2 separate regions of the Homo sapiens genome follow, and region 2 is linked to region 1. The links come from fine-mapping of genetic effects on gene expression. A gene starts in region 1. The other region holds a variant in brackets. All regions are shown on one strand. Distances are from middle to middle.

Region 1 (5,000 bases):
TGACCAGAGGTGGGGGAAATGGAAGGGAAAGAAGACCAAAGAGCTGGCTTGTAATGCTGGATCCCTGTTTACACAGGCTCGGTGGAGATGTGAGTGGGATATCCAGGCAAGATGATGCCACAGGATGAGCGCACTTCAAAGCTGGAAGGAAGCCTGGTGAGGGAGCAGGGCAGAATCTTCTCCTGGACTGTGAGGGTACATACGGTGGATGTGTATGGCTTCATTGAAGATGCCAGTGTGAGAGGGAAGAGAAAAAAAAACAAAGGTCAAACACAGGGACCACTACGGCCAAGACCAAAGATCCATCAGAATAGGGGAGAGAGAACGTTCCCATGTCTTTGAAGCCCAGGGAGCAAGAGGGCGAGGAACCAGCTAAGAGTGCTGAGGACTTCAGGGAGGTGGAGGAGAGTCAAGTCAGAGAAGAAACCACTGGGCTGGTCATGCTCAGCTCAGGGATTCCCTTCAACAGGATGAGGTGGATGGCAGCCAGATTGCCAAGGGTGAAAAAGTGGGTGAATGGGGGGAGGCAGAAACAAGTGTGAGAACAAGACCAGTTGCTGCTGATGTTATATGAAGCACGAACATGGTGGGCACCTACTATGTGCCAGGCATGCATTCCAGTTTTTTAAATTAATCTTCAAATAAGCCTTGCTGGGTAGGCATCAACATGCCCATTTTACAGAGGAGGAAACTGAGGAAGTGGAGGCAGCCTGTATGGTCTTCCTAAGGAAGGAAATGGATGGCATTGCCAGGAGTAACCAGAGGTAAAGGAACATTCAGTTCCAAATAGGCTTCCTCTCTTCTCTGCCCTTCCCCACAGTTCCAGAGCTCTCGCAGTGTCAGGCTGCCAGAAGGAAGACAGGATGCAGACGGGGCTGGGCTGTCAGGATTCAGGACCCAGAGACAGACCTAGGCGTGATTTTCGGGTTGACCCTGGGCAAGTACATTTCCCTGTGTGAGTCTCAGTTTCTCTGTCTATAAAATGGCATGGGGGTATTTCGAGGCCCCTCGCTGCACCCCTCTATGTACCATGTGTTTTGCTTTCTGTATTCTGATGCTCTGGCATCTGAGGCCTTGTTGACCTTGGAGAAACTCCCTCCCAGGGTCCAGCCACCCCAGAGCCCACACCCCAACTGCCTCTTTGATCGGGTTGCCATGCCCTGGCCACTACCCACCTGCCCTAATCATGCCAGGGCTAGGTACAAAACAATTAGGAACAGCCCCTGTGCCCCAGAGCCCCTGAAGTATCCCAACTTGCCAGTCCTCAGCCTGCCTGCCCTGCCTTTCCTCTTCTATCCTTGGAAGCCACAGTAAAAGCCCCTTGGCCTCAGATCCGCCCTGTCCCCTCCCCAGGCTCTGCTGCTTCCCCTTGTGCCCCGCGCACTGGTGTCCCCCTCCTGTTGAGAACATGAGTAAGAAACTGTCTTTTTAATGGCAAGAGGTCCTGATATAGTGGCCTGACCACAGCTCAAATTTTCTATTCATACACTACGTTTTTAAACAGCGCCTTTATTTATCCATCCCTTTTTCGTGCTTTCTACATACCAGGCGCTGCCAAGAGTGCTTTAGAAACAGCCACCCATTTCCTCCTCACCAAAGCCCAGTGAGGTAGGCAGCACTGCCACCTCTGTTTCAGAGAGGGGGTAACCCAAGCACGGAATAGCGCAGTCCCTTGCCTAAGGACACACAGCGAGGAAGCGCCCAGCGGGGACTCGAACCCACGCACTCTGGCTCCAGAGTCGATGCTCTTAATATTATGTTGAGCCGCTCTCCGTGATCCAGCCGTAAGGGGACTAATTAAGGGACAGCAAACTGAGCTGCCTAAATTTCTCGTGTGTGCGGCCTGAGGTGGGCCGGCTGTCGGCCTGCATTTGGGCGAGCAGTACAGGGCGATCTCAGGATGTTCACCCTCCCTGCGTCTCCGCGCGGGCCAGGCTGGCCGGGCTCAGCTGCTCCAAGTCCAAGTCCTAATATGGAAGTCGTGCCCCGCCGCAGAGCCGGACCTGTTGTGTCTTTGCCTTTCTACGCATCTGCGCCCACCTCGGCCCAGAACAAGGATTTCAAAAAGTGCCCCGCATTTTGATTTCAGAAGGACTCACCCCAAGCCGCGGAAGCAGAGAGAGTGGCCAGGATAAAGGCACGGAGCCACATCGTGGAAGGGCGACAGTTCTCGGGGCCTGCGAGGTCTCTGTGCAGTTCAGAGGGACTGTGCTGTCCAGCCCTGGAGCCCAGCCCCGCCCAGAGTTACCGCCCTGCGCTGCCAATTGCCTAATCCTCTAATTGGGAGAGATCAGAAAAGCCCTCCCTTTCCTCAGATCTCCCTGGGCTTCTAGTGGGGCCTCAGGCCACGCCCACCCACAGTTTACCCTCTTTCATCAAACCAGTCTGGACTCTACTGTCAGATTACAGAGAGCTGTAAACTTGCCCAACTACTTGTTACATAAGGGTTCACCCTTGCAGGACTCTAACCTCAGTGCACTGTGACGGCCCCCAAGGGCCCACACCAGCAGGCAGATGCTTTTAGGCAAAGGGAAGCTTTGATCTGAGGTCCTCAGAAACAACTGGAAAATGTTAGAGCCACTCACACCTCACAGCTCAGCTGGGTAAGTTAGGACATATCTCAGCTCCCAGGGCTTGTGTTTTCATAGCTTTCCAGGCTCTCAAGCTTGGAAGCGATCTTAAATTTCATCGAGTCCCCTTTCTGAGGCCTGAATTAGCTTCACAATATCCTGCCAACTGGTCCAGCCTCCTGTCACACACCATCGGTGTCAGAGAACTCACTACTTTCCAAAGCAGGGATTTTTGGACAGAATGTAAAAATGAACTCCGTCCCCCCATAGTCCCTGGCTGTTATCATCCATCCATCCAAGTACCCATCCATTTTGTGAACATTTACCAAAATGCTTGGCACCTGGCCATGTATAATGGATACAAAGACCAATTCAAGACATGGTTCAGCTTCTCAAGGGGCTCACCATTGTAGACAAGACAGATGGGGTGGAGGAGCAGTAGGGGTGATGTCAAGGCAATGTGAAATCACCAAATTAAGGGGATACAGAGTGCTCTGGGCACACCTGGAAAACTGTCATTTACAAGCTGCTGGGGACACAAGGAAGTCACTCAAAGCCTCTTTCATGGGATTATTAAATGTCCAACAATAGGGAATTCACTAAACACACTGTGGTACCGCTGGCTAAGGAAATACGATGTATTCACTCAAAATAGTGATGTGCACAGCTATTTATTAACAATGAAGACAGGATGCGTTGTGAAAGGAGAAAATAATAGGTTATAAACTGTTGTGCGGTGTAGGCAGTTCCTCAAAAAGTTCAACACAGAGTTTCCATATGACCCAGCAATTCCCCTCCTAGGTGTCTACCGAAGAGAACTGAAAGCATGTCCACACAAAAGCTTGTACACAAAGAGCAGTGTCATTCATCCTAGTCAAAAAGTGGGCACAACCCGCATGTCCATGACCTGATGAATGTGTAAATGAAGTGTGGTGTATGCGTGCAGAGGCATATCATCCAGCCATAAGAAGAACATGCTACAACGTGGATGAAGCTGGAAAACATCATGGTAAAGGAAAGAAGCCAGCCACAAAAGGCCACATGTCGTATGATGCTTTTTATATGTAATTTCCAAAATAGTCAAATCCATGGAGACAGAAAGTGTTTGACAGGGTCTGGGGAAGGGGAAAGAGACGGGGATGAGGAGTGACTGCTAATGGGCATGAGTTTTATCTTGGGGGTGGTAAAAATGTCCTGGGATTAAATAGTGATGATGTTAGTGCAACTTTGGGAATATACTAAACACCACTAGATTGTACACTTTAAAAAGGTAAACTTTATGACATGTGACTTATATTTCAATAAAATAATGAAATATTTTTGAAAATCTAGATAGGTATAATATGGTCCCGTTTTGGTAGTAACATATGTCTTTATTTGCATAGGAAAATACTGGAAGTCTATATATCTAATTAGAATTACAACAGCCATTTCCTGGCTGTAATCTTGTCAGTGTTTCACTTATTTGCATTTTCCACTTTTATTCCTTCATACATTCATTGACAAATATTTACTGAGAGCTTACTGTGTGGCAAACACTATGCCGAGAGTTTTGTATGCAGGATCTCAGTTCTCAAAATAACCCCGTGAGATTAATGCTGTCTCACGATCTTAAATTGATTTCTGTTGTTTAAGCCACCCAGTCTGTGATATTTTCTTCTGGCAGCCTAAGTAGACTAATACATAGGCTCAACTCAATTCCGTTATTTATTCCCAAAAGAAACTAAGGCCCAGAGATGAGGAGGGATTGCCTAAGGTCACACAGCAACTCAATGGCAAAGTCAGAACCAGAACTTGAGGCTTCTGCCTTCCAGCACAGGGTGGCTGGCAGCCATTTCTCTTGCTTTTATACATCAGGAAGATATTCTAATCAGTAGCCTTATCTAAGGCAAATTGCCTTGTCAGCTCATTGACCCAGGCTTAGCATGGTAGGGCTGAAGGGATAGAAATAGCCAGGGGAGGCTGGGCACTGTGGCAACCCTTCCCGCTCGGTAATCCTAGCACTTTGGCAAGCCAAGGTGGGAAGATTGCTTGAGAGAGGAGTTCAAGACCAACCTGGGAAACATAGTAAGACCCTATCTCTACAAGAATAAGGAGAAAGGAAGAAGAAGAAAAAGAGGAAGGAGAAGAAGGAGAAGGAGGGAAGAAAGAAGAAGAGGAAGAAGAAGAAGAAAGACAGAGAGAGACAAAGAAAGAAAGAGAGAGGAAGGAAGGAAGGAAGGAAGGAAGGAAGGAAGGAAGGAAGGGACAAAGATGGGAGCCATGTACCAGGTACCTGGGGAGCTATGTTCTATTTTCCCAATGTCACTTGGCAAGCCTGCCCTTGTCCAGGCCACACCACTATTGACATCAGGAAAGATTGGGCAACCAGCAGCCATAAATCACATGACAGTCCCAGAGCTGCTGATGGATTCTTGCCCAAGGCCATGA
Region 2 (5,000 bases), 22 kb before region 1:
TACAATATTTGCCCAAAGTTCTAAAACATTTGCATTGTCCAACCTAGTTATTTACTTCTAAAAATAATCCTAAGAAAATTATTAGACATGTGTTTAGAGACTTATGAACATTAGGCTGAGCTCAATGTTATTGTAGCATCAGAATGTGAGTAGCCAGGCTAAACATCTAATAGGATATGAATATTAAAGTCTATTTAACACAGCCATTTCATGGAATAAGGAATGCTTTGATGAGTTTGTATCAACATTGAGAAAATCCTCACAACATAGTGTTCTATGAACAAAAGTAAAATATAAAATTGATTTTTAAAGTATATAGGACATGGAAAATCTTTAGACGAAAACACAAAAAATTTATAGCACTTGCCTCCAGGTAGTGGAAATGAGTGATACATAGTTTCTTCTTTTTGTGTTTCCATATTTTTGAAAGTTTCTATAATTTAACATATTAATTTTATATTCAGAAATGTTATTTTATCAAAAAGAGTGAGACAACAATAAGTGAAAGTAGATAAAATCTGTGTAGTCCTGGCAAAAAAAAAAAAAAAAAAGCCCTGAACTTAAAGTCATGGGAAACCAGATGAAAAACATAAGTTCAGTATTGCTCAAACCATCAGAAAATGGAGATGGGAACTCTATATATAGTTCAGACGCAGAGCATAGGGCAAGGGCAAGTTTAAGAAAGAACAGATTCAACTCCAGTGGTCTTGGTTAAAGGTTTTTATCAGGACCCTGTGAAGAAATGAGGGTTATGAGCACCTGCCCCTTCCTGTGCAAAGGTGTGTCAGGGCACCTGCTAGTTAAGCGTTAGCTAGTTTTTATCATGCTTATGAAGTTCTAAATTTAAAAACCCTTCCAGCATGGTTAGAGAGAGGACATTTCCTAGCTTGCAGACTAGGCGAATGAGAGCTGGAAGAAAAGGAATCCTGTGAATCTCCTCTAGCTGGCACGCAGGAACAGACACTCCTCTCTAGGTGAGCACACACATCCCTAACGTCATGCCCCACCCACACAGCCTTGGGTCAGTGGTAGCAGGTCCTGCATAGACCCTGCCCTTGCCCTGTGCTTGCATGCTACTGCACGCACTGAGATGCATAAAAACCACCCTCAGACACTGCCATTCTACAGACCACCTCTCCCACACCCGCCCTGGCTCCTCTCTCTGGCCTTCTTGGTCCTGGACAATCCTCTGGATCCCATGCAGGGCTCCCACTTTTTATCCAGCTCCAATACTTAACAAACTTGTTTGCAGCTGGCTCAGACCTTAAAACCCTTCCACGACTCATCTTTCAATATTTGTCCTACAGCAGCCCTATGTCCCACAATAACTCCAGGCATGGAGCCCTTGCAGCAGATGCTGCCAGGGTCTCACCTATATCCCCTCTTCCTGGGCATGCCAGCCTGACTTCCACCTCCAGCATCTGCAGCTCCAGGCCTGAGGCCTTTGTCTGGTCACAAGAGACTACTCTGCCCTTGTGTGCAGCAGGTCGAAGTCACAGGGAATAAACAATTCCTTGCAAGAGCCTTCAACCAATGACAAGTAGAAGCTGGTGAATAAATACCCGGCTCCCTTGCCACTCAGATGGGATGCCCCTGAGCCCTGTATTCTTGGTGTTTCCTTGAGTTTCCCCGCTCCAGTTGTCCACAGTGGATACTCCCTTGACAACGCATCTTGGATTGGATTCCATCTCTTTCCTCTCTCACTTCCCCACCTCCCTACTGCTGTTATCTGGGATCATCACCTTAAAAAAACCACTTGCCTCTGGATTTTTTTTTCTCACAGTCTTCTGCTGGCATAAACCAAAATAAGACAGCACCTCATCCCATGCCATATGGAATCAGCCTTTGAGGCCTGACCCTCAGCTGTTTCCATGTCTGTCTATGCTGGGAGGTAGGTGGGTCAGATACAGAAGCTCGTGGGGTTTGTGTCCCTCCCGTTCGACCTCTGGGACTCACCTCTGTGGTTCCGGGCCACAATCACAGATGGGACACCAAACATCACATCTGCTATCAAGTCCAGGAACAGGTCTTTCTTTTTGACAGTGTCGTCTGTTCCTCCTAAGTATTTCTCAGTGGCTTCTGGAATCAGTTCCTTAGCAATGCACTGAAATAGATCAAAAAGTGACCACCAGCCCCGGGTGAGCGATGCAGCTTCTCCAGCCCACCAGAAAGTCCTGCCTCAATGGTGAACCCCATAAGCCCTGTGCAACTCCCCGCTAGGGTGGAAAATGAAGTGGGAAAGGTGGAAAGATGGGGGAAACCCTGAGGCCCCAGTCTTCATTCTGCCATTTAATTGCTCTATGATTTGGGCAAGTCCTTGTCCCTCTCTGGGTCTCAGCCAATTCCCATGATTCCTAGACTCTTACAACAAGGGGATAGGACTTCCACAGGAGTGACATGGCTGTCTTCTGGTCCA[G/A]TTGCCCTTCGGAGAGTGGATAGCTCATCAACTGCTAAAAAAAAAAAAAAGTTCAGCATTTATGAATCATTGGGAATTAATGATAAGAAACAAACTGACCAACCAACCAAACCAATGCAGTCTGAAAGTCCTCTAATTATGGGGGCTTTTAAGGGCATGAGTCTTTACTGAAATGGGTGAAATCAATGAATCAAATGGGCTTATATCCAGAAACTCAAGCATTGCAAAGTTTACAAAAAAAAAAAACAAAAAACAAAATTTCAGAGAAGCTGTGGCAGTGTTTTGCAGTGTGTGTGTGTGCGCGCGTGTGTGTGTGTGTGTCTGTGGCTGGGATCCCTACAGTGGTCAGTGACATGGAGATGCAAGGTGTCTGCCAGGCCAGTGTGGAATAGAGGGCTCTGGGGAAGAGGATGTAGACCTCCCTAGTACCCCCACCTGTCACAGATGACACTGAAATCCTTAAATCCTGTCTTCGTGGCTTTGGTCTTTGGTATAACCTCTGAAATCCTTCTGAGGGGCGAACTGCACATCTCTACGCACATAACAACTCTTCCCAAACCTCTGCACTCAGGGACTCGACCAATCTCTAGCATTGCTTCTAGCAGCTTAAGGCTGTGTCCCTAGAATGACCCCAGTATCCTTAACATAACTGCCTGGGAAGGCTCAACCCTGCCAGGACAATTTACTCTGCTCCAGCCAAAACCTGGAGACAAGCAGCCAGGTCCCCGAACCCAACTAGAGCAGTTACTTTAGAAGCCTGCAATGATAAACACTTTCTCTGCCCTTTGGGATGTGAATCTACCACCCAACCCCATTTCCTTGAGGACCTGAGAGCCTTCTCTTTGCAATGCAAACATTCAGGGAGCTCACTCCTGATCTTCCCAGTCCCTGTCGAAAGAGTAGAGCCTGACTTCAGTGGGTTCTTCCTGCGGTCTAATGCATGGCTTCCTGTCCTAAAGATAAGAGGAGTTTGTTTCTGCCCCAGGTGAGCCAGGATGAAGACATCCAGGTGGTCTAGTCACATGAACCAAGCCTCTCCCCATAGACCACAGTGTTTCCCTTGGCACACCTGGCCTATGAAACGTCATCAGGCTTTTGTTTCAGGGATGTGAGTCCACTCCACGCTGGACTATTTCCCCTATTGCAATCATATTACTGAATAAATCTGTCCTACTGCTTTAACCAGGGTCAGTTTTGTTTATCTTCAACTGGAAGGAGAACACTTCTTTACTTTTAGAACTCAATTACTTTTTCCATTTATTTGTTTCCAACTTTTATTTTAGGTTTGGGGGTAACTGTGCAGGTTTGATCATGGGTAATTTGGGTCTCTGGAGTTTGCTGTATAGATTATTTTGTTACCAGGTATTGAGCATAGCACCCGATTAGGTAGCTTTTCCATCCTCATCTTCCTCTGACCATCCACTCTCTTAGTAGACGCTGATGTCTGCTGTTCCCTAGAAGTCAATGGTAACTCAAGAAGAAGCCACTTTCTTTGGATATTTTCAATGAGGTGATGAAGAGCATGAGTGATTTTCAGGGGAATTACGCACACCCAGCCCGAGGTGGGAAGCCAGGAAGCCCCCGACTGCTTCTCCGGACTCCTCCACTCCTTCCCCCTTCTAGGCCCCCTCCGTTTTCCCATCTGCAGAGTTATTTTCTCTACTGGCCCTCCCAGCACAGACACTTCAGGATTCTTCAATAGGAAGACAATAAGAGAGTCTGGGGAGAGGGAATCCCAGGGCCCTGATACCCCGGTGAAAACTGTGCCCTCCTGGAGAAGATTTCCGTGGAAATGTTAACTCCTGCTGAAGGGAACAGCTGCCCAGGACTCAGAGTGCAGCTCGGAGAGGGAAGCATTCCTGGGACCAGAGACAGGAGGGCTGATGGGGGTGGTTGAGTCCCTCCAACAGACATGTGCCTTCTCACCATTGGAATCAACCAGCCAAACTCCTGCTTGTTAATTCCGACCATGTAGGGGACAGTGTGGAAATTCCTTTCAGCTTGAAGCTCTTCAGGTGTTTTCAGCAGCAGCATCCCATCAATCACAGTGCCCAGAAGGGGTTGACTCTGGGGAGAGAGCAGTGCAGCACCTGTGATTCCCTCCCTAGTCACACCCATGTCCCCAACTCTGCCTGTCTGAGGGTGAGACCAGTACCATAGACCGGCATGGCCATGCGCCATGGCTGCACATGCTCAGGATCCTAACTTAGGGGGGTAGGTCTCCATGACTCAGGGGCAGAACTTCAGGCAGAGGCTGACACTGCTCAGGTGATGAGGAGAGGAAGAAATCTTCACTCATATTGAAATACATGTATTATCTATGTAAAATTACATGTCTATATATTTCAATTTGAAGTGCATGCATTTTCCTCTGTGTGTCCACAATTGATTTTCGGTAGTCCTGGCAGTTGCTTCTGATAAAGCCCCCGTGAGTACTGAATTAGAGAATACAGGGTCATCACTCAAGGGGGAAATACTGGGTTAGGTTTTTGCAAACCTCTGGCCACAACATTTTCATCAACCTTCTTTTATGTGTGGGTTTCTGTTGAAAGAGACTTCCACGGCTCCATCCCACACAATAGGT

What was found.
Region 2: its variant is fine-mapped to the expression of CES1 in whole blood (TOPMed, PIP above 0.99).

What each region holds. Positions count from the first base shown.
Region 1 is chr16:55,830,905-55,835,904 of GRCh38, forward strand. It overlaps CES1 (carboxylesterase 1), which reads right to left and starts at 2,192. Exons shown (of 14, transcript NM_001025195.2): 1 at 2,100-2,192. The coding sequence starts at 2,151.
Region 2 is chr16:55,808,561-55,813,560 of GRCh38, forward strand. CES1 (carboxylesterase 1) reads right to left here. Exons shown (of 14, transcript NM_001025195.2): 9 at 4,343-4,483; 10 at 2,367-2,450; 11 at 1,957-2,104. Among named protein-coding and RNA genes, the nearest start is that of CES1, 22 kb to the right of the region's middle. The variant G/A (reference allele first, on the strand shown) is at 2,417.